5 separate regions of the Homo sapiens genome follow, and regions 1, 2, 4 and 5 are each reported to be linked to region 3. Evidence: microRNA targets listed by miRTarBase, many of them from high-throughput screens and not tested one by one. Region 3 holds a microRNA gene; each other region holds the end of a gene's coding sequence.

What was found. Region 3 holds the annotated microRNA hsa-miR-3150b-3p (UGAGGAGAUCGUCGAGGUUGG, at 3,040-3,060, opposite strand). A microRNA usually pairs through its seed, bases 2 to 8, with sites in the 3' UTR of a target mRNA and lowers its output. Matches are read on the target gene's strand: a 7mer-m8 pairs with bases 2 to 8, a 7mer-A1 pairs with bases 2 to 7 and ends in A, and an 8mer does both.
Region 1: miRTarBase lists SUGT1 as a target of hsa-miR-3150b-3p. The part of its 3' UTR that is shown has no 7-base or 8-base seed match.
Region 2: miRTarBase lists MIGA2 as a target of hsa-miR-3150b-3p. Seed matches in the 3' UTR shown: 7mer-m8 at 2,698-2,704.
Region 4: the mRNA of PIGP is a reported target of hsa-miR-3150b-3p. The part of its 3' UTR that is shown has no 7-base or 8-base seed match.
Region 5: miRTarBase lists IHH as a target of hsa-miR-3150b-3p. Seed matches in the 3' UTR shown: 7mer-m8 at 957-963 and 7mer-A1 at 1,350-1,356.

What each region holds. Positions count from the first base shown.
Region 1 is chr13:52,687,398-52,691,507 of GRCh38, reverse strand. SUGT1 (SGT1 assembly cochaperone of MIS12 kinetochore complex) reads right to left here. Exons shown (of 13, transcript NM_006704.5): 13 at 1-3,774. The coding sequence ends at 3,673. Among named protein-coding and RNA genes, the nearest start is that of SUGT1, 37 kb to the right of the region's middle.
Region 2 is chr9:129,069,684-129,073,795 of GRCh38, reverse strand. MIGA2 (mitoguardin 2) reads right to left here. Exons shown (of 16, transcript NM_001329990.2): 15 at 3,831-3,947; 16 at 1,714-3,549. The coding sequence ends at 3,343. Among named protein-coding and RNA genes, the nearest start is that of DOLPP1, 9.4 kb to the left of the region's middle. RefSeq lists enhancers at 1,053-2,002, 2,003-2,952, 3,900-4,039.
Region 3 is chr8:95,069,885-95,074,002 of GRCh38, forward strand. It overlaps MIR3150B (microRNA 3150b), which reads right to left and starts at 3,112; the gene lies at 3,027-3,112. It overlaps MIR3150BHG (MIR3150B host gene), which reads right to left and starts at 3,298. Exons shown (of 2, transcript NR_132986.1): 1 at 3,045-3,298. It overlaps MIR3150A (microRNA 3150a), which reads left to right and starts at 3,030; the gene lies at 3,030-3,109. LOC124901980 (a long non-coding RNA gene) reads right to left here and starts at 2,369. Exons shown (of 2, transcript XR_007061013.1): 1 at 1,862-2,369; 2 at 765-933. It also overlaps a transcript of NDUFAF6 not described here. RefSeq lists a silencer at 3,505-3,604.
Region 4 is chr21:37,061,929-37,066,046 of GRCh38, reverse strand. PIGP (phosphatidylinositol glycan anchor biosynthesis class P) reads left to right here. Exons shown (of 5, transcript NM_153682.3): 5 at 335-673. The coding sequence ends at 465. Among named protein-coding and RNA genes, the nearest start is that of PIGP, 9.1 kb to the left of the region's middle.
Region 5 is chr2:219,051,933-219,056,050 of GRCh38, reverse strand. IHH (Indian hedgehog signaling molecule) reads left to right here. Exons shown (of 3, transcript NM_002181.4): 3 at 186-1,627. The coding sequence ends at 844. Among named protein-coding and RNA genes, the nearest start is that of MIR3131, 4.8 kb to the left of the region's middle.

The sequences.
Region 1 (4,110 bases), not on the chromosome of region 3:
TAGATGGTAAACTAATATGCAATTTTGCTCTGGGTCAGTGATATATCTCAGATATCAATAATCTAATCTGATATGTAGATAACTGAGGAAGGAATAGAGAAAGGTAAAGTGGGAAAGAAGAGCCAAAAAATATTTAAGTACTGAACTAAATTAAAATTTCTATCTAAATTATTCATAATAGCATTGTGATGTATCTCCATTTTAAATATTTACTTGAAGTTCATAACTGGGCATGGTGGCTCACTCCTGTAATCCCAGCACTTTGGGTAGGCTGAGGCAGGTAGATAACTTGAGCCCAGAAGTTCAAGACCAGCCTGGGCACATGGTGAAACCCGGTTCTACAAAAAAAATACAAAAATTAGCCAGTCGTGGTGATGCATGCCTGTGGTCCCAGCTACTTGGGAGGCTGAGATGGGAGAATCATTTGAGCCTGAAAGATTAAGGCTACAGTGAGCCAAGAATGAAAATGTGGGCCAGGCACAGTGACTCACACCTGTAATCCCAGCACTTTGGGAAGCCGAGGAAAGAGGATTACTTGAGCCTAGGAGTTGGAGGCTACAGTGAGCCATGATCGCACCACTGCACTCCAGCCTAGGTGATAGAAGAAGACCGTGTCTCTAAACAAATTTTTAAAAAAGGAATAAAAATGTTTTTAAAAACTAGAGTTATTAATGCAAGCCATCCTCTTTCTCCATTCCATTTCACTCCCTATAGACAGAAAACAGATTGGCCAGTAAGTGCCAGTGCTAAAGGCTGAGCTTGTTAGTTGGCAGTCAACTCTGAATGGGTATTAAGACATAAGACAGGAAATTATCAAAATTGACCTTGATGTTTCAAACTTGTGGTATAGATATCTAAAGAGATTACTAGATAGCAGAGTTCAAAAAGCAGATTATTCTATTCAAGATTCTTTGAAGACAGTGGGAGAATTCTGGATTCATCAAGGTGCAAATTATTATGGAAATCAGAAGAGATGAAGTCTACAAGACCAAGAAAAACATGTATTCCAGGACTAACCTTAAAAGGGAAAGGAAACATTTAAGAGGAAAAATACATACATTCTGAAGAAACAAAAGGCTACTAATACTAACAGCACTGAGAACCAAAATTTGAGAAATGAAAATTGGAGTCTAGAAACAAAGAGGGAACAATTAATAGCTACATTGAGATAGCAGAGGATAAGGATAGAGTTAAGAGGCTCTTAATCAGAAAGAAGTTTTTTGTTTTAACTTTCTGGAGGCTTACAAGCTTCCATTATCTAGAATGATTAAACAAAGCAGTACTTTAGAGTGGGATTCTTAGGCAGCAATCTAGCCTACTTTTCAAAATTCCCTTGACCTATAATGAATCTAATGTATTTGACAAGGTATGTTTTATAATGCTTTCAGTCATGTGTTTTACAAACTCCCTTCAGACCAGCAAAATCCCAAATCCCACAACACTTAGCAAATCTAGCCAATGGGTAAGCATATTCTAGATAATATATCCTTTAAAACCAACTAAAGATAGTACCAGATTTTTTTTTTTTAAACAGCTATTTATTTTTTTTGAGATGGAGTCGCCCAGGCTGGAGTGCAGTGGCATGATCTTGGCTCACTGCACCCCCTGCCTCCCGGTTCAAGCAATTCTCCCTGCCTGAGCCTCCCAAGTAGCTGGGACTACAGGTGCATGCCACTACACCCAGCTAATTTTTGCATTTTTAGTAGACACAGGGTTTCACCATGTTGGCCAGGCTGGTCTTGAACTCCTGACCTCAGGTGATCTGCCCACCTCCGCCTCCCAAAATGCTGGGATTACAAGCATGAGCTACTGCACCTGGTCAGAAACAGCTATTTTAATAGTGTCATCTTTAAGAAAGAAAAAGTTAAGCGGCAAAAATATGCTTCTGTATTTAGAACCATGGACCTTTAATTATAACTCTAAGACTCTATGGATTATTTACAAAGGAACTAAGAAAGGCCTAAACCTGCTGAAGATTATGAAGGTAGTCAATGACAGAAGACTTGCTAGAGCTAAGCATTCTTGTCTCTGGTATAGTGCTATACGTCCTCAACTATGCCTCTGCAGCAATAGCCTTCCTCTTCATCTTAGGATTAATGGTACTGAGAAAATTTAACATACAGAATACAAAAGTCACTATCCTATTTTCCTAAGAAGAAAACTTTAGAAATCCATCCAACCAAAACTTAATTTTGCCTTTTCCTTCAGTGTTCAAGAAGAAAAAAATGTATCTAGTAGCTCTAAGTGGACAGAAGGACAAGTGAAAACTCTAGAATGCTTAAACAAGCTATAACAACAGGTTTGGGCACCATCTGGTATCACCTTACTGAAACTTTCCTTAGTAACTCCCCTACACCCCACAACAAAGGACGAGAAGGAAGGAGCTGAATTCCTACTGTTTTGGAGGCTGAAATGATGACCCGTTTGCCTCCCACTCCCCCTGCTCTGAGGGTATAGAGTAGTGCTTTGCCATAAAAATGTTAGTGACACCTAACAGAGCTGAGACCAACATCTGGGGTATTACAGTTGAGAAAATCATGGTGAGAAAACAAAGTCAGATCTACAGGTCATCCATAGTCTATACTTTATAACAGCCTAGACTGTAAACAATTTTAATCACAGAACATTTTCCTGTCTCTAAAGTGTATTTATACCGAGTTCAGCATTCAATCTTTCCACAGTTCCTTCATGAATGTTATTTTTTTTCCCTGCTACATTTATAAGCTCTTTGAAGTTAATAATCATGTCTTTAATTTTTTGTATTCTCATGATATCTATATATTCTAGGCACAGAGTAAATACTAAACATATACACATTAATTTACTCTCACAGCAGTTACCATAAACCAATGAAACCAAAGTAATCATGGGGACGTGACAACAGAGATTTTCTAATAAAGAAAAAAAATACCAAAAAACCCACCAATGCTGTAATTTCAAGAATCCTGTCGTGATAAAAGAAGCAAGTGGAGTTGGGCTTTCCTAGAACCTTCTTTGCCCTACCTTCACAGATTATCCTTAGTATAAACTTGCAGTGTGTTAAAACTCAGGTATCTATGTTTTATACAGAAACTTGCAAGGTAACGACCAAAATATCTCAGTGCAATTAAATTTACAAATTCTTCCCATTAAAAGAACTACATGGGAATTCCCTGTGATAATTTCTCAAAGTTCTCATTAAAAACTTAAGAAAAAGGTAAATAAACCAAACATCTTCATAGAAAAATTGTATTTACAACTCCATTCAAAAGCAGTTTTTAAAAGCAAACACAATGTAACACTGAAGGTGAAAAATCTAAGCTCACCCAAAGCTGCCAGGTCTAATAAATTACTGACAGAATACTGTATCAAAAATAAGGCAATAACCGAAAATATACCATTAAAGATTTCTCCATCCCCACAACTAGATAGAATGAATCTATCTAGGAGCAAATGACATGCTTTATTCAGTTTCACCATGTCTGAAACCTTTAAGGACAGAAGTGATAAAATGTTATCTTCATTCTTCATTAGACTTGAACACTTGAAGGAAAATAATTTCTAAAGCACAAAGAGGTAAAGAAGTATAATCTTTCAAAAAGATATTCAGTGTTCAAAATTCAAGAATGCAATATCAATACACAATGGGCATTAGGTGAATATACACAATACGATGAGAGCAAATTAATTTATTTAGTACTTTTTCCATTCCATATCATCAGGAGGATTGATTTCAACTTTCCTTTTACCTACATCAGACCAGTTGGTACTCAAAACTGTACCACCCGACTCCATCTGCAATGAAAAATAAAAATAGATTAATTCCTGGACCATATAATCAAAATAGAATATTTTTCTTAAAATGTTCCAAGCATAGAGCCCCAAATATTGGCTATTATATACAGCTCAATATAAACTCTATGCAATACATATATAATAGATTATACAGATAAAATATATAGCTCAATATAAACTCAAAACAATATTTTTATTTAAACTTAGGCATTCCAGAGGTTAACAAGTTCCATAAAATCTGAAAAGGAAATCCTAAAGTAGTCAGGGAGGTGCACTACATCCTTTGCTAATGAGCATAGATGTGCATGTGGAAAAACTACCTTCAATTGAAAATAT
Region 2 (4,112 bases), not on the chromosome of region 3:
CTCAGGTGATCCACCCACCTCGGCCTCCCAAACTGCTGGGATTACAAGCATGAGCCACCGTGCCTGGCCCCGAGAATTTTTTTTTTTTTTAGGTGTGATCATGGTATTGTGGTTATTCTGGAGAATGACCTTGTTTTTTTGTTTTTTAAGTTCAGGGGTGCATGTGCAGGATGTGCAGGTTTGTTACATAGGTAAATATGTGCCACAGTGGTTTGCTGCACACATCATCCTGTCGCCTAGGTTTTTTTTTCTCTTTTTTTTTTCGAGATGGAGTTTCGCTCTGTCACTCAGGATGGAGTGAAGTGGTGTGATCTCAGCTCACTGCAACCTCTGCCCACCGGGTTCAAGCACTTCTCGTCCCTCAGCCTCCCAAGCAGCTGAGACTACAGGCACCCGCCACCATGCCTGGCCAAGTTTTTGTATTTTTAGTAGAGACGGGTTTCACCATGTTGGCCAGGCTGGTTGCAAACTCCTGGCCTCAAGTGATCCACCTGCCTCGGCCTCCCAAAGTGCTGGGATTACAGGCGTGAGCCACTGTGTCCAGCAGTCCTATCATCTAGGTATTAAGCCCAGCATCCACTAGCTGTTCTTCCTGATGCTCTCCCTTCTCCCACACCCTGCCCTCCGACAGGCCCCAGTGTGTGTTGTTCCCTGCAGTGTGTCCATGTGTTCTCATCATTCAACTCCCACTTACAAGAATGTGACTACCTTGTTTTTAAGCTCTGCTTAAAGGTTTAAGAGTAAAGTACATGTCTGAAACTTAGGCTAAAGTATTTTGGAAATACATGAAATAAACATGGCAAAATGTTGCCGGGAGCGGTGGCTCACGCCTGTAATCCCAGCACTTTGGGAGGCTGAGGCGGGCGGATCACGAGGTCAGGAGATCGAGACCATCCTGGCTAACACGGTAAAACCTCGTCTCTACTAAAAATACAAAAAAATTAGCTGGGCATGGTGGCATGTGCCTGTAATCCCAGCTACTCGGGAGGCTGAGGCAGGAGAATGGCGTGAACCTGGGAGGCAGAGCTTGCAGTGAGCTGAGATCGTGCCACTGCACTCCAGCCTGAGTGACAGATCGAGACTCTGTCTCAAGAAAAAAAAAAAAAAGTCAAAATGTTAATTACATGACCAGAAGTGTTGGTTTTATATAGTTTTTTCAATTTTTCCATACATTTGAAATTTTTTTTTAAAGTTTCTTTTTTAAAAACCTGTAAAATAAAACTTGTGATTTCCAGCTGCCCATGAAAACTTGTAACGATCCGGCAGGCTTGGACCTGTTCCCAGTGTTCCAGCCCCTCCCCCTGGCTCTCACAGCTTGGGGGGTAACAACCTTTAAGCCTGTGAGTCTGCATCTTGGCCCGGTCCAGTGCCTGCATTTTACAGATGTGGAAACTGAGGGCCAGTGAGAATCGACTTCCCTAAGATGGTGCCTGAGCAGGGTCCACAGCCAGGCTGCCCACCTTGCATCCATGGCCTTGAGCGTGGCACTGGCCGCTCCCCACCCTTCCCCGCGGACCACCGGGGCCCTCCCTGCCTAGGGATGGCTGGATCCTGTCAGGCAGTCAAGTTGCCCCAAGTAGGATCACAGCCCCCACCAGGCTTCTCCTGACCTTTGTCCTCCTGGAACCTTCACCCACGGCACCCCAAAAAGCAGGTGCCCTGCTCTGCCCCAAGAAGCAAACAGCCATGCACATAACCAACAACATGGCAAAGTGGAAGGAAATCGTCTCAATTGTTTATTCGACTCACAGTCAGTGCACACACTCTACCATCCAAAAGTCGAAGCTGTGACAATCGACTGCTACAGGCAGTGCATGGATGTGTAAACAAACACAAATGAAAATGCAAATCAGAGTGGGCGGGGCCAAGGCCCACTGTTACATTCACAGCACAGGGTAAGTGCAAAAGAACAGGATGTCAGGATGGGGGGCGGGGAGCACAGGGTCCTTCCTGCCCTGGAGGCTGCCTCCAGGCATCAGCCTGGGAGGTGGGTTAGTGCCCATGGAACCCTCCTGCCCAGGAAGCTGCCTCCGGGCATCAGCCTGGGAGGCGGGTTAGTGCCCATGGATCCGGTGTCTGGGAAGGGGCCCACAGAAGATGGGCCACACCCAGCATCATCTCCTCTCTGTGGTGCGCCCTCCCATCCCCAGACCCCTTTCCCATTCAGGGGAGAGGGGCCCTGGTCACAGGAGCCAGTCCTCTGACCTCCTGAGTGTGGAAACCCAGGAGGGGAGTGTGTTTCTCCTGCAGGCCTCTCAACCTGGAAAGGGCAGAGCCACAGCAGAACGCGTTGGGGCCACAGACACTCGCTCAGGTGAAGACACTGAGAAGACACTGCCGGGCTGACAGGACCCCGCGGCGGGGGGACGTCGCTGCTAACAGGACTCTCTGCAGGCCCAGGGGAGGCTCTGCCCCCATGAGGCCCCAGGAGCGTTTGTGCGTTGAACTGAAGGCAAAGTGCTGGGCAGTTTCTTGTCCTAATGAAGGTGGGGAAGCTGGTCCGGCCACATACATCCTCTGACCTCCCCCAAGTGGTCCCCGGGCCCACAGGTGACAGGGGCCTGAGCGATCCCTGGTCTGAGCCCCCAGCTCAGAGCCTAGCACCACCCAGGGAGGTCTGGGCTCATGGAAGGGGGATGGGCGGGGGCAGGAGGGCCCAGCCCCACCTCCGCCCGTCTTTGGTGGTGACAGAGGTGGGAGGAGAAAAGACGATCTTTGGTAGGGCGAGGGAATGTCAAAGGACACTGTCAAGGGCCCAGTTCCTGCTCAGAAGAGAGCACAGGAGTGGGAGGCCCACCTCTGCCCCATCTCTGGATGGCCCAGGCCTGCTGCCCACTAAGGTGGCCCCACTCTCCTTCTCTGGAGTTGCAAACTCTCTGAGAAGGCGGTTGAGGTGGGGAGGGCATCAGGACAGGCCAGCTGGATGCTGAGACCATATAGCCACAGGTGGCTTCTAGCTCAGGACACTGTGACCTTCACCACAGGGCTCTAGGCCCCATCCTTCACCTCCACCCTCCCAGCACCCTTGTCAGCAGCCCTGGAGCGATGGGAGGTTTTGGGGTCCCCCACCTGGGGCATCCTGGCTCTGCCTGTCCCAATTCTCCACAACAACCCCCTCTCTCACAGCCTTTCTCTCCCACAGGCCCCACTGGTCCTGGCCTCTGCTTCCCCCAGGAACCGTTCTTCTCCATGGAAATGTCCCCTCTGGGCCTTGGGGACTCCCAGATGATGGGGGTGGGGCAAAGTCAGGGGCAACGGCCCTCAGCCACCACAGCTGTCAGATACCAACCCAGGGAAGGGAGGAGGAGCCTTCTCTCTGCCACCCCCCAGCCCGTGCCGCCTCTACTGCAGCTCCCCCAGGGGCCCATTCTCTCGGGGCAGCGCCCCATTCACGCCTGCGCTGCTGGCCGCGGGCACCCCCAGGTACCCCAGCAATATCTCGCTGCGGCGCCGGGACAGCTGCAGGATGTCGTCTGCCAGCGCGGGCAGTGACGTGTAGCGCACATTGTCCAGGTCGAACATGTCCCTCAGGTACTGCACAATCTGGTGCTGGGGGAGCAGGGCTGGTGTCAGGCCTGGCCCAGCCACTGCCCACCATGATGCCCCCCAGGTTACCTGAAGTCCCCTTGTCCACCACCAGAGCCCCAGCCGGTCCTTTCCATCCCCAGGCTCCTCCCTCCCACTGCTTCCTCTGGACCCATGTGGGTCTGGCTCTGCCCTCTCTCTGGGAGCAGGCCCAGGCCCAGGCCCTCATCCCATTCCTGGCACCTCCCAGGGCGCCTGTGCTCAGGGCAAGGGTCAGGAAAGAACGAGAACTGCTCTCTGTTTACCTTGAAGAAAGCACAGACTTCAGCAAGCTGAGGCTTGGGTCCAAGGAAGCCGAAGGCTAGGACAGGGCTCACATGCTCCGATACGGAGTAGAAATGGGAGATGAAGCCATCAGGCACCTGCGGTGGGCACAAGGCTGAGGGGCCAGGCGGGGCCCAGGTAGGATGAGGGCACCAGGCCCAGGTGTCGCATAAAGGGCTGGGCTTTAGAGGTCGCCCCAGCTCATGTACTTTCCTGCTAGATGACCCTGGGCAGTGACTCAAGCTTTCGAAGCCCATTTTAAC
Region 3 (4,118 bases):
CAGTTTAAAATGTTCTTGATGTTACATAATGAGTTAGAAACCTGTCCAGCCACATACCAGATGCATAGGCTGGGGCTGGGACAAGTTACTTGACCAATCTGGACTTCCATTATTCATGACTCCAGGAGCTCCTTCACTCATGAACTGTGTACCTAGACAGAGACACAGCTCAGGGCAGGCATTTTTATTACCTTTGTGTCCCAAGGAGAGGGCCTCCTTTTTTGAGAGGCATAGCATATGGGACAAGAATGTGGTTCTGCAGCTGGGCAGCTTGGGTTTATATGCTGGCTCCTCTACTGCCTACTGATTGACCACTAGCAAGTTATTACATTTAACCTCTCCGTGCCTTCATTTTCTCATCTGTAAAATGGCCTAGTGATAGTGCCTACTTCCTAGAATTATCATGAAGGTTAAGTTAGTTAATAATTGTAAAGTGCCGAAAATAGTGGCTGGCACTTACTAAGTGTACATATGTGTTTGCCATTTTAATCTATTTATATACATACTGTGTCACTTTCAGAGAAAACCAGGTCACTAGATTTTATCTTTTGGAATATTGCTAACATTAAGCTTTGAAATTTGATATTTTCCATCTTGGATGCTTTAAGATTTCAGGTTATCAAACAAATTTAAGAAAGTAAACACATTTTTACTTCTTCTAACTTCAGAGAATGAGCTTCTAAAAATGAGTGTTGAGTTTCTTTCCACTTTGGATTATGAAATTAAAAAGATATACATAAAACAAAACAAAAATCACATAAAAATCCATGAATTCAGAAGCTATATTTGAAATAAACAGGCTAGATGGCAGATAATATATACTAAAACCATTAACGTCACACATAAGGATTATAATATATCAACAACTTCAAGCTGGGCAGAGAATTTCTGGTATCACAGTTCACTTCTATGGGTCTTTGCTTTGCAATTCAACTGAAATTAAAAACAGAAAAACTCTCTATTGGTTTTGAAGCATATCTCCCATGATTTTTTTCCTATTCCCCTCCCCTCCCCGAGTCATCTGCCCTTTATTACTTGCCTTGGTCAGAGGGAGAATATAATTTTAGAAAAACACAAGCAGTAAAAAGCAATTTCTATACCAAGGAAATAATAATGGTGATAATCCAGATCACATAGAAATTAAATCTACTTTCCTAAACAGTAAAACCAGCTAGCTTTGCATGTGTTCATACCATATGATTAATATTAAAGCATAAGGCAACCGGCCGGGCGCGGTGGCTCAAGCCTGTAATCCCAGCACTTTGGGAGGCTGAGGTGGGCGGATCACGAGGTCAGGAAATCAAGACCATCCTGGCTAACACGGTGAAAACCCGTCTCTACTAAAAATACAAAAAAAAAAAAAATTAGCCGGGCATTGTGGCGGGCGCCTGTAGTCCCAGCTACTCGGGAGGCTGAGGCAGGAGAATGGCGTGAACCTGGGAGGTGGAGTTTGCAGTGAGCCGAGATCTCACCACTGCACTCCAGCCTGGGCGATAGAGCGAGACTCCGTCTCCAAAAGAAAAAAAAAAAAAAAAAAAAGCATAAGGCAGACACTACCAGCACTGCACCCTCATTAGCCAGCCAGCTTTGCAGACTCACCACCCCCACAGGCTGTCCTGGAGGTTCCTACGCCTGCAGTGGGAGCTAAGAGGTCAGCTGTTGCCCCAGAGCCGACCCCAGTAACCTTTGCAGCTTCCCTGAGGGCTTCAGGGACCTGCACCCTGTTTAGTGGGCACAGAGAAAATGGCTCATGTCCTGGAAATACCCAGCCTGGCTCCATTGGGCTGTAAGTAGTTCCTGGCAAAATTCCTCATTAGGTAACAATTTGGATGGTGGTGGAGATGTGTCCCTCCTACTTTACCCAAGAGGTGGTAGCGGTGTGGCCTGTGGGAATTTTGAGGGCAGCGGGCAAAAGTCATTCCAGTCCCAGGGCTCAGCTCCAGCAGCGCCCAGGGGCATCTCAGAAGCAGCTACATCATCATCTGTACCACCCCACGCCCTGTGCTTGTTTAGGGCTGAGATCCTATTGGGAGGCATTTGGGGAGGAGGTGAGCTGCGCTGGCAGAAGGTTCAGGGCCGGTCACTGGGGATTTTCCTGCCACTCACATCCCCTTCTTTCAAGTCTTCTTTAACTCTGCACAGATGGGAGTAACAGAAGATGCTGGTTTCCACCTCATCATTTTTTACCTTCTCACCCCCAGAAATTAATCTTCGCATAAACCTCAGGACCAGCACAATGCCTGTCTCAATAAAATGTTAGTTTCCTTTCCTTCTGTATCTCCTGCCTTCCCCTTCCTGGCCACCTAAGACACAGGGCCGTTATGTTGCGGTGCCCTACTTCGCAGCACCCCCAGACCTGCCCAGGGCTGCTCCCCATGCCAGAACCCTCCCTGTCCCCTAAGAACCTGACTATCCTTTGTTTCATTCCCTAAAAGCCTTACTTTTCAAGGCTGAGGCTGCAGCATCCTTTATACTGGTATACACTTTCATGTTTACAAGTGTCATTGGGCATCTACTGGTACTCATCTTAGTTACCCTTGTAACAGAGCCCTTAGATGTCAAACCAAAGCAGTGACTGACACTGAGATTTGTGGCTGCCTGGGTAGGTAGAGAAGAGAGAGAGAGTAGAGTTGACCATGTTTCTCAGCTCACAAGTTCCTATGATGGCTTGGAACCCTGACCAGCATTTTCTTCTGAAGCAACACCCTCGTGGTATGTTCAGCCTTTTTCTAGATCTCTCCAAGACAGAGAAATACTTGTTGCTCCTGCATTGAGGTTGGGCAGATGGGCATTACTGGGGCACTAGTGGCCAAGTTGCCCTGATCCACCCACCTGAGACCAGGTATGTGTGTGGTGGTGCAAGCCACTGCTTTTTCAGGCTGGTGCTGCTGGATGAGAAAGTCCCAAAGTTCTATCATTGAAGGAGCAGCACAAGAGTGAGGACAAATACCTTCACAGGCAGCAAGAAAGTGGTACACAGCAGGGAGGGCAGTGGGCACCTGGGGGAAGAGCAAGGCCCGAGGAGTGAGGGGAAGCAGGCCAACCTCGACGATCTCCTCAGCACCTGAACGCCAAGGCTGGGGAGATCCTCGAGGTTGGCCTGCTTTCCCTCCTTTTCTTACAACTTCTGGAGAAGCGTCAGCCCTCTGCAGGGAGGCGGCCAAGCTGGCAGGCGAGTCGGCGAGGGTGTCATTGCTTATATGGCTGCGGGGACCGAAGCTAGGAATAGACGCGCTGAGGGCTAGGAGGGCTCCGACCGGACGGAAGGATGCCGCATCGCGGGTCGCTGCCCGGAGCTGTGCGAGTTCGGTGCTCAGCCCCAACGGCGCTTTAGGCGGGTCCCCTAGGTTCTCGCCCTTGCGCGCGCAGCCAGGACAGTGTTTCTGCGCTTCCTGAGGCCAAAGCGGGTCTCCCCGTTTTTTCCTCTGGGGATGCCAAAAGCCACTGGAAAAGACAGGAAGCTGTCGCCCCGTCGCATTCTCAGCAAGATGAGGCCGAGTAGGCAGCGCCACCTCTCCCGAGCGCCCGCGCCCCGCTGCCCCAGCCGGGGAGGGACTGGAGGTGAAGTCGCAGGTGCGCTCCCCAGGGAATATCCGGGCTCGCAGACCACGCGGCACCGCCCCCGCCTCGCCCCGCTGCTCCTCCTCCCCCATTCCAGGTGTCTCCTTTTCCGCTTGCCCCTTAAACGTCCCCCTTCCGCAGGGGTCCTGCGAACCCCATCCACTGCCATGGCTCATTCTAACACCTTCACTGGGTGTCTTTTTGCATAACACTTAAAATAAAAATGGATCTGAATCTGATCCCGGCTTCCAGCTTACAGGACATGTCGAGGACAGAGGCACAAGTGAAAGTCCACCCAAGGAATGCAGTCAGCAAAGCCACGGTGTGGGGAGCTCTCTCCAGAGGGTAGGGGAGAAACCCAAAGAGTAAAAGAGACTTTAAAACCTGCCAACCAATCCCAACCTGATGTCCTAATTTGAATCCTGATTCAAATCAACTGCTTTTAATGGAAACTTAAAACTTTAGTGGAAATTTGAACCTGACTTGATATTTGATATAAGAAACCATAGTTAATTTTTTAAGGCATGATAATGGCATTGTGCTTATTTTTAAAGGAT
Region 4 (4,118 bases), not on the chromosome of region 3:
CAATGGCGCAATCTCGGCTCACTGCAGGCTCCGCCCCCTGGGTTCACGCTGTTCTCCTGCCTCAGCCTCCCGAGTAGGTGGGACTACAGGCGCCCGCCACCTCACCAGGCTAATTTTGTGTGTTTGTGTTTTTAGTAGAGACAGGGATGTTTTTATTTTAATTGGGACATTTCTTCTAAAGAGAGGATTTAAGTAATCATCTAATTATGTTAAACATGATGTTTGTCACTATCCAAACGTCAGCCTAGTAAACTATGTGGTGGGTCTCCATCAGACACAGAGACTGTAGAAGAAATTGCTTAGGTAAACAGAGCTTTTTGGTCTTTTCTTACAGATAACTATGCAAAAAATCAACAGCAGAAGAAATACCAAGAGGAGGCCATTCCAGCCTTAAGAGATATTTCTATTAGTGAAGTAAACCAAATGTTCTTTCTTGCAGCCAAAGAACTTTACACCAAAAACTGAACTGTGTGTAACCATAGTAACACCAAGCACGTATTTATTTATAAGTTTTTGCCATTATAATTTTGACCATAAATTAATTTGACCATCTCTCTTATTAATAGAGAAGTAAAAAATGTAAGTTGACCTTCTCTTAGATTATGTTCAATGAATATTGTAAATGTTCAAGTATTGTTAATGAATAGAATAAATACAATATTGCATTCCCATATAGCAGACTTAAAAAAAAAAATCAATGTCAGTATAATCAAGAAGTTCCTCCAGAGAGGCATTTATATTGTAATTTGCAAAGGGCAATGATGTCCTTCCTCCTGTTTGTCCTGAGGGGCCCAGAATTCAAACCCTTAGTTTTTGGGAAGGGTACAGTTAGTACTTGTGCCATCAGATTCATGTCTAAGACACAAATATTTGTTGAGTACTCACTGTGTACCAGGTATTTTTCTAGGCACTGAGGATGAAGTAATGGTAAGATTCTCTCTCAAAGAGCTTATAGTTTTAGAAGCAGGGTGAGGCAACTAAGCAAATAAACAAGGAAATATAATTTGATGAGTGCTATGCAAAGAATTAAGATAATGTATTCTAGAATGCAAAGGGATGACTAGTTCACATTGGGTGGTCAAGGAAGGCCTCTCAGAGAGAGGCTGTTGGGATCTAAGTATAAAGCAGGTGAGGCAAAGACCATAAGGTGGGAAGGAACTTGGTTTGTCCTAAGAACAGAGAGAAGACTGGCATTGGGCATAGAGCATACCAAACAAGAGAGAATGTGGTCCCAGGTGAGCCTGGAGAGACCGGGCCCAGATTGTGAAGGGCTTTGTAGGCTGGTGTAGGAAGTGTGGATTTAAGTGTAAGTGTGATGAGTTTGAGGCACTTTAGGATCAAGCTGTTGGGAGTCTTGAAGGAAAGGAATGACATGGCCTGATTTCTGTTTTTAAAAGTCATCCTGATTGGTGAATGAAGAATAGATTCAGAGGAGGAGCTGGGAAGGGGACAATAACCATATCCTTACCCAGTAAGCATGAGATGGATAACATGAATCTGCTTTTCCTGTTCCCTAGTTTGTCCCAGTTCCTGTTATTTTATGGTGAGAGCATGTCACCACACTTAAGAGCAGTATAAGGGGACTGGATGTGGTGGTTCATGCCTGTAATCCCAGCACTTTGGGAGGTTGAGGCAGCTGGATCACCTGAGGTCAGGAGTTGGAGACCAGCCTGGCCAACATGGCAAAACCTCATATCTACTAAAAATACAAAAATTAGTCAGGCGTGGTGGCAGGCGTCTGTAATCCCAGCTACTCGGGAGGCTGAGGCAGGAGAATTGCTTGAGCCTGGGAGGCAGAGATTGCAGTGAGCCGAGATCATGCCACTGCACTCCAGCCTTAGCAACAGAGCGAGACGGTTACCTTGGCAACCGTCTCAAAAAAAAAAGAAACAAAAAAAAGCAGTGTAAGGGAACCAGCGAACTCCACCAAGTATAGAATGATAAATAAATCATGGTCTGTTTCTACAATTGAACACTACACAGCCATGCAAACAAGAATGCATTACTTCTCTACCTAATAATATGAATTAATATGGCCATAACATTGGGCAAAAAAAGCCAGACACAAAAGAGTAAACTACTGCGTGGTTCCCTTTATTTGAAGTTCAAAATCAGGAAAAACTAATCTATGGTGGCAAATATTAGAATAATGGTTACCTTTGGAGAAGAGTATTATCTAGGAGGAGGCATGAAGGAGCCTGCTGGTGAATTGAAAATGCCCTACATCTTGATCTGGGTGGTGGTTATGGTTACATGGAGGTAATACATGTTTTTAAAAAATCATTAAGTTATTAAGATTTCTGCTTCTGATGCAAGTTACACCTCAATAAAAAGGGGAAAAAAAAACAGTGCCTATGCCTACCTCCAGAAAATGTTGATTCATTGGTCTGGAGTAGAGCACAGGCAGGGGTAATTTTTTAACATCTTCCAGATGCTTCCAATATGCAGCCAGGGTCGAGAATGACTCCCTTACATGATTGGACTCCCTTACATGATTGGACTCCCTTACATGATTGGACTCCCTTACATGATTGGACTCCCTTACATGATTAGACTTAACTGAGTTTTGGTCAAGCAGGGCAGTAGCTGTAAGCTTTGGAAGAGAAAGCCAGCAGTTATCCGAGCGGTTCCCTCCCATCTGTGAGACTCTTGCTCATGTCAGCAGTATTCCCTTGTCTTCCCCTCGGACAGGTGATGGGCCTGAGACGGGTTTGAAATAGGTCAGGATAGAACCTTCATGGACTCTAGTGTTCTATTGCACATTAAGCCTCAAATTAACTTTTCATTCTGGTTTCCAACCACTCTGTCCTTACAGGTCATGAAAGGAACACCAATGTTTTGCAAACTATGGGCAGCAGTGTTTTTGAGGGTCATGATCAGTTTAGTGTAGCAATTCTCTATCTTTTCTTAAGATCTTAGGACCCCTTTATTCTTGTAAAGAGTGAGAGCCCCAAAGACCTTTTGTGTATGTAGATATATTTAAAAATTAAAATAGAAAATTTTTAAATATTTGTTTATAAATAATACGTTACCTTTTAGATATAAAATTAACTCATCACATAATGAGAAACAAAATTTCTGTTACAGAAACATTTCACCCAAATCATTGTAGTAATACTAAGCTGATTCTAAAAGGACAAATTTAACATAAACATATTCATGAGAAATAACTATTTTCTAAAACAAAAAAATTCAGTGAGACAAGTAGAATTGTTTTACATTTCTCCAAGTCTCTTTAATGTCTGGCTTCATGGAACACAGCCGTTTCTCATATCTGCTTGTGCATTCAGTCTGTGACATTAGCGCCTGTCACGAAGCCTCTGGAAAGCTCCGCTGCATAGTCATGAGAGAACGAGGATGAAAAAGACAAAACATCTCAGCAGTATTAGGAAAATAGTTTTGACCTCATAGGCCCCCTGAAATATGGTCTTGGGACCCCCGGACTTTGAGAACCACTGGTTAGTGGGCCTCCACTAGTGTGTGTGTGATGAACTAGAATAGAATATGTCAGTGCATTGCACTCAGTAAGGGTGAATATTTTGACTGAACGTCTGTTTCAACCACTTCAGAGCCTCTCTGTTCACCTCTTACTCCAGCCACTGATGCCCCAAACAGTTCATGCAAATTTAACCACATCCACATAGGTGCCTCTTATAGTACACTCTGGAAGGAGAGGGGTTAACACCCACAGGACCAGCCTGGAGCCCAACCTGGGAGAGGTATCAGTGGATATACACATCCTTCTTTCAGCCCGGAGGAGACAGTTCTGCACTGCATTCCATGAGCTCCTCAGAAGGTCTCATGGGATTGAACTGCGGTTGCCACGATGGTGGTGGACTCAGCCCACGTGCTTGTCTGTCTGATGTGTTTTGCACCCTCTGCCACTTGGCCCTGCTCTCTGTGGTCACTTTCCCAGTAAATTGCCTGCACACAAGCCTTTGTCCCAGTCTCTGCTTTCAGAACTCCAGCTGAGATGTTTTTTGTTTTTGGTATTTTTGAGACAGGATCAAAGCTGGAATGCAGTGGTGCCATCATGGCTCACTGCAGCCTTGAACTCCCAGGCTCAAGCGATCCTCCCACCTCAGCCTCCCAAGTAGCTATGACCACAGGCATGCACC
Region 5 (4,118 bases), not on the chromosome of region 3:
ATGGGGGCAGTGAAGTATGGGTTCAAGCCTGCATAGGAAGTGGGGGGCAGGAGCTGGGATATGGTGACGGGGGCTCTCTGGGAGCAAGAGGAGCTCTGGCTGGCTGGGGTGGCCAAGGGAGGGTCGTTGTGACCAGGAGGCTGAGCTGCACAGCAGTAACACCTTCATGTCCCTTTCTCCCACAGAGCACTCGGCCGCAGCCAAGACGGGCGGCTGCTTCCCTGCCGGAGCCCAGGTACGCCTGGAGAGTGGGGCGCGTGTGGCCTTGTCAGCCGTGAGGCCGGGAGACCGTGTGCTGGCCATGGGGGAGGATGGGAGCCCCACCTTCAGCGATGTGCTCATTTTCCTGGACCGCGAGCCTCACAGGCTGAGAGCCTTCCAGGTCATCGAGACTCAGGACCCCCCACGCCGCCTGGCACTCACACCCGCTCACCTGCTCTTTACGGCTGACAATCACACGGAGCCGGCAGCCCGCTTCCGGGCCACATTTGCCAGCCACGTGCAGCCTGGCCAGTACGTGCTGGTGGCTGGGGTGCCAGGCCTGCAGCCTGCCCGCGTGGCAGCTGTCTCTACACACGTGGCCCTCGGGGCCTACGCCCCGCTCACAAAGCATGGGACACTGGTGGTGGAGGATGTGGTGGCATCCTGCTTCGCGGCCGTGGCTGACCACCACCTGGCTCAGTTGGCCTTCTGGCCCCTGAGACTCTTTCACAGCTTGGCATGGGGCAGCTGGACTCCGGGGGAGGGTGTGCATTGGTACCCCCAGCTGCTCTACCGCCTGGGGCGTCTCCTGCTAGAAGAGGGCAGCTTCCACCCACTGGGCATGTCCGGGGCAGGGAGCTGAAAGGACTCCACCGCTGCCCTCCTGGAACTGCTGTACTGGGTCCAGAAGCCTCTCAGCCAGGAGGGAGCTGGCCCTGGAAGGGACCTGAGCTGGGGGACACTGGCTCCTGCCATCTCCTCTGCCATGAAGATACACCATTGAGACTTGACTGGGCAACACCAGCGTCCCCCACCCCCGTCGTGGTGTAGTCATAGAGCTGCAAGCTGAGCTGGCGAGGGGATGGTTGTTGACCCCTCTCTCCTAGAGACCTTGAGGCTGGCACGGCGACTCCCAACTCAGCCTGCTCTCACTACGAGTTTTCATACTCTGCCTCCCCCATTGGGGAGGGCCCATTCCATCCATCTTAGGCCCCTTTGGGTGGGCTTGCGCCTCAGTTGATGCTGCTAAATTCCCTGGGAGCCAGCATGGATCTGGCTGGACCCGATGCTGTCCAGAACTGGGAAGGCCACAGGGGTGGGGCAGCCATCCCGGCCATTCTGAGGTATGACATTCCTCCCCGGCCACACTCCTCAAGACACATCCAGAGACTGTTGCTGTCTGTGGGCAGAGTTCTGTGTTCTGGCCAATGTGACCGTAGTGCCGGGGACTGGGGGAGGTGGGTTGGATGTGCTTGCCACCCCCCCGGCTAAGCTCCCCCTTCTGCTGAACCATGATCCCCACCCCCTCCGCCGGTCAGTCTCCCATACCTTATTTATTGGAGTGGAGGGGGAAGCCCATGGGAGAATTTTGGGGATGTTTTGGTCTTTTCTTCCTTTTGTAATAAAAATTATTTAAGTTGTTAGAGCCACAGAGTCCAGGATGCTCACAGATAGTTTGGAGCCCTGGAAGGTTGTGTCCAGGGTTTTCTCCCCTCCTCGGAGAGGCCTGGCTCACCTTCCTCCAAGGACAAAAACTCCAGGCCTCCCACCCTCACTGCAGGTCCATTCCCACCCAGTAGCTCTGCAAAGCCCCTACAGAGAGCTGTGCTCTGCACAGGGCAGGACCTTCCCACACTGACCTCACCATTTACCCCAAACAAGGATGGACCCGAGAGAGAACAGAGTTGACTAGTCCATGGTCACCTTACTCATCTATAACCATGCCCTTGTGCTCTCAGGGCCTGGGCTTCTGACTCTTCCCTGTTGGTAATGGACCACAGTGTGAAAAGATTCTGTAAAATTCACGTTGTCTTGTGGGCTATTCTGACTTCTCGGACAGGTCAGAGATCCCTAATCTAGCAGTTCTCAAATGTCAGGATCACCTGGGAAGCTTGTTTAAAGATGATTCCTGGCCCCACTTCCAGGATTCCACTTTTTTTTTTTTTTTTTTTTTTGAGACAGAGTCTTACTCTATTGGCCAGGCTGGAGTGCAGTAGCGCAATCTTGGCTCACTGCAATCTCTGCCTCCTGGGTTCACACCATTCTCCTGCCTCAGCCTCCTGAGTAGGTGGGACTACAGGCACACGCCACCATGCCTGGCTAATTTTTATTTGTATTTTTACTGGAGACGGGGTTTCACCGTGTTAGCCAGGATGGTCTCGATCTCATGTCCTTGTGATCCACCCACCTCAGCCTCCCAAAGTGCTGGGATTACAGGCAGGAGCCACCACGCCCGGCCCAGGATTCCACTTTAATAGATCCAGTGCAAAGCCCAGGAGCTTAGTTTTGCAAACACCCCAAACATGGCAGATGGTCCATGGGCCACACTCAAGAACTGCTGCTTAGTCCAGAGGAGGCCTGGTTTACTGCCAAGACAGCATGACCCCCTTCTTTACTTTCCCTCCATCTCTCCATCCCAAGGCAAGTTTTTCTATACTCGCTATAGATAAGCTGAGATTCTAGGTCCAGTGGTACAAAATTTTCAGGAGTTTTGTGAGTCAGTTGAAATAGGCACAGTGGCCATAGAACTCTGGAAACTGGCAGAGACTACCAATTAGGGTTTCCCCCCACCTTGGGGAGCCAGTTGTTGAAGTGTGCCACTGCCCAGGCTCTGCCCTTTTACACAGATGTCTGTGTTGAAAGTGGTGGGGATGACTGTTCAGACTCTTAGTTTACCCTGTCCTCACATCCACTGAAGAAAATGCCAGAGAAAACCATTATTCTGGGGTCTGTGTCATCTGGAGAAATAGGGCCCCACTGGCTGTACTGATAACTGCTATCATTTTTGATGACTAACCATTGCTAGGCATTATTCTAGATCTTTACACTCAGTAGGCCACTTAGTGCTCATAATGACCCTATGTGGTGTGTACTTTATTTAATATTACCACTTTCCAGAAAAGAACACAGAGGCACAGGGAGGTTAAGAAACTTGCCCAGGAGTACACAAGAAGCGACAGAAGCAGAATTTGAATCCTTCCAGACTGGCTCTTGGGTCCATTGTTTTTATCCCCAAGCTTTTCCCCTGGGGAACTCAGGTTCTCTCTGGTAGGTCGCACTCAGCATTTGAGGTCTGGAAATCTGCTTTGTCAACACATCTAGAGTGGACCCATCTCTCTGTGGCAGACTCTTACTGACCAGGCTCACAGGGACCAAAATGTTCATGAACTCATTCACAGTGAGAAATAACAGGCCAAGGTCAAGATGCTCTTGTCCATTCATTCACACATTCTCTCCATGTAGACATTCTACCTGGGAGATCAGATTGTGGTGACAAGTTGTTGGTGAGTGTGGATGCATGCAGTAGATGACTCTCCAGCTCATGGAGGAAGGAGTGGGGGGATGCCTCTCCTGCTGGGGTTGGGCACATGTGGTCCAGCAGACACAGAGCCATTTGGTGTCCTTAGACCTTTCTGTTCTAGATGGGCCTCCTCAGGGAACAAATTCATTCTTCAGACAAAGATTGCAAAGATTCAGCAAAGAACTTTGTACGAATTCAGGCCCTCAAAAGAACAAATTTGGGGTGGGAGTGAGACCCTACAGCTTTTCCTGGAATTCTGGGCCCAGATATGAAGAAACAAGGAGACAGTCTGGAGATCATCTTTCACATCTGCAGTGTGGTGGCCCAAATCTCTCCCATCCTCTGTACAGTGCTGAGACCCAGAGGAGGGTCATTTGCACCACCCAGACCCAGGCAGTGCAGATCCAATGCCTGCTTCTCCACTTGGGCCCAAGCTTAGCCCCCAAGGCTGCTGCATCCAGAACTGTGATGTTCGCTCATAGTCAATGCTTATTTTATTTTATTTTATTTATTTTTTGAGACAGGGTCTCATTCTGTCACCCAGGATGGAGTGCAGTGGCAAGATCTCGGCTCACTGCAGCCTCTGCCTTAGGTTCAAGCAATTCTCCTGCCTCAG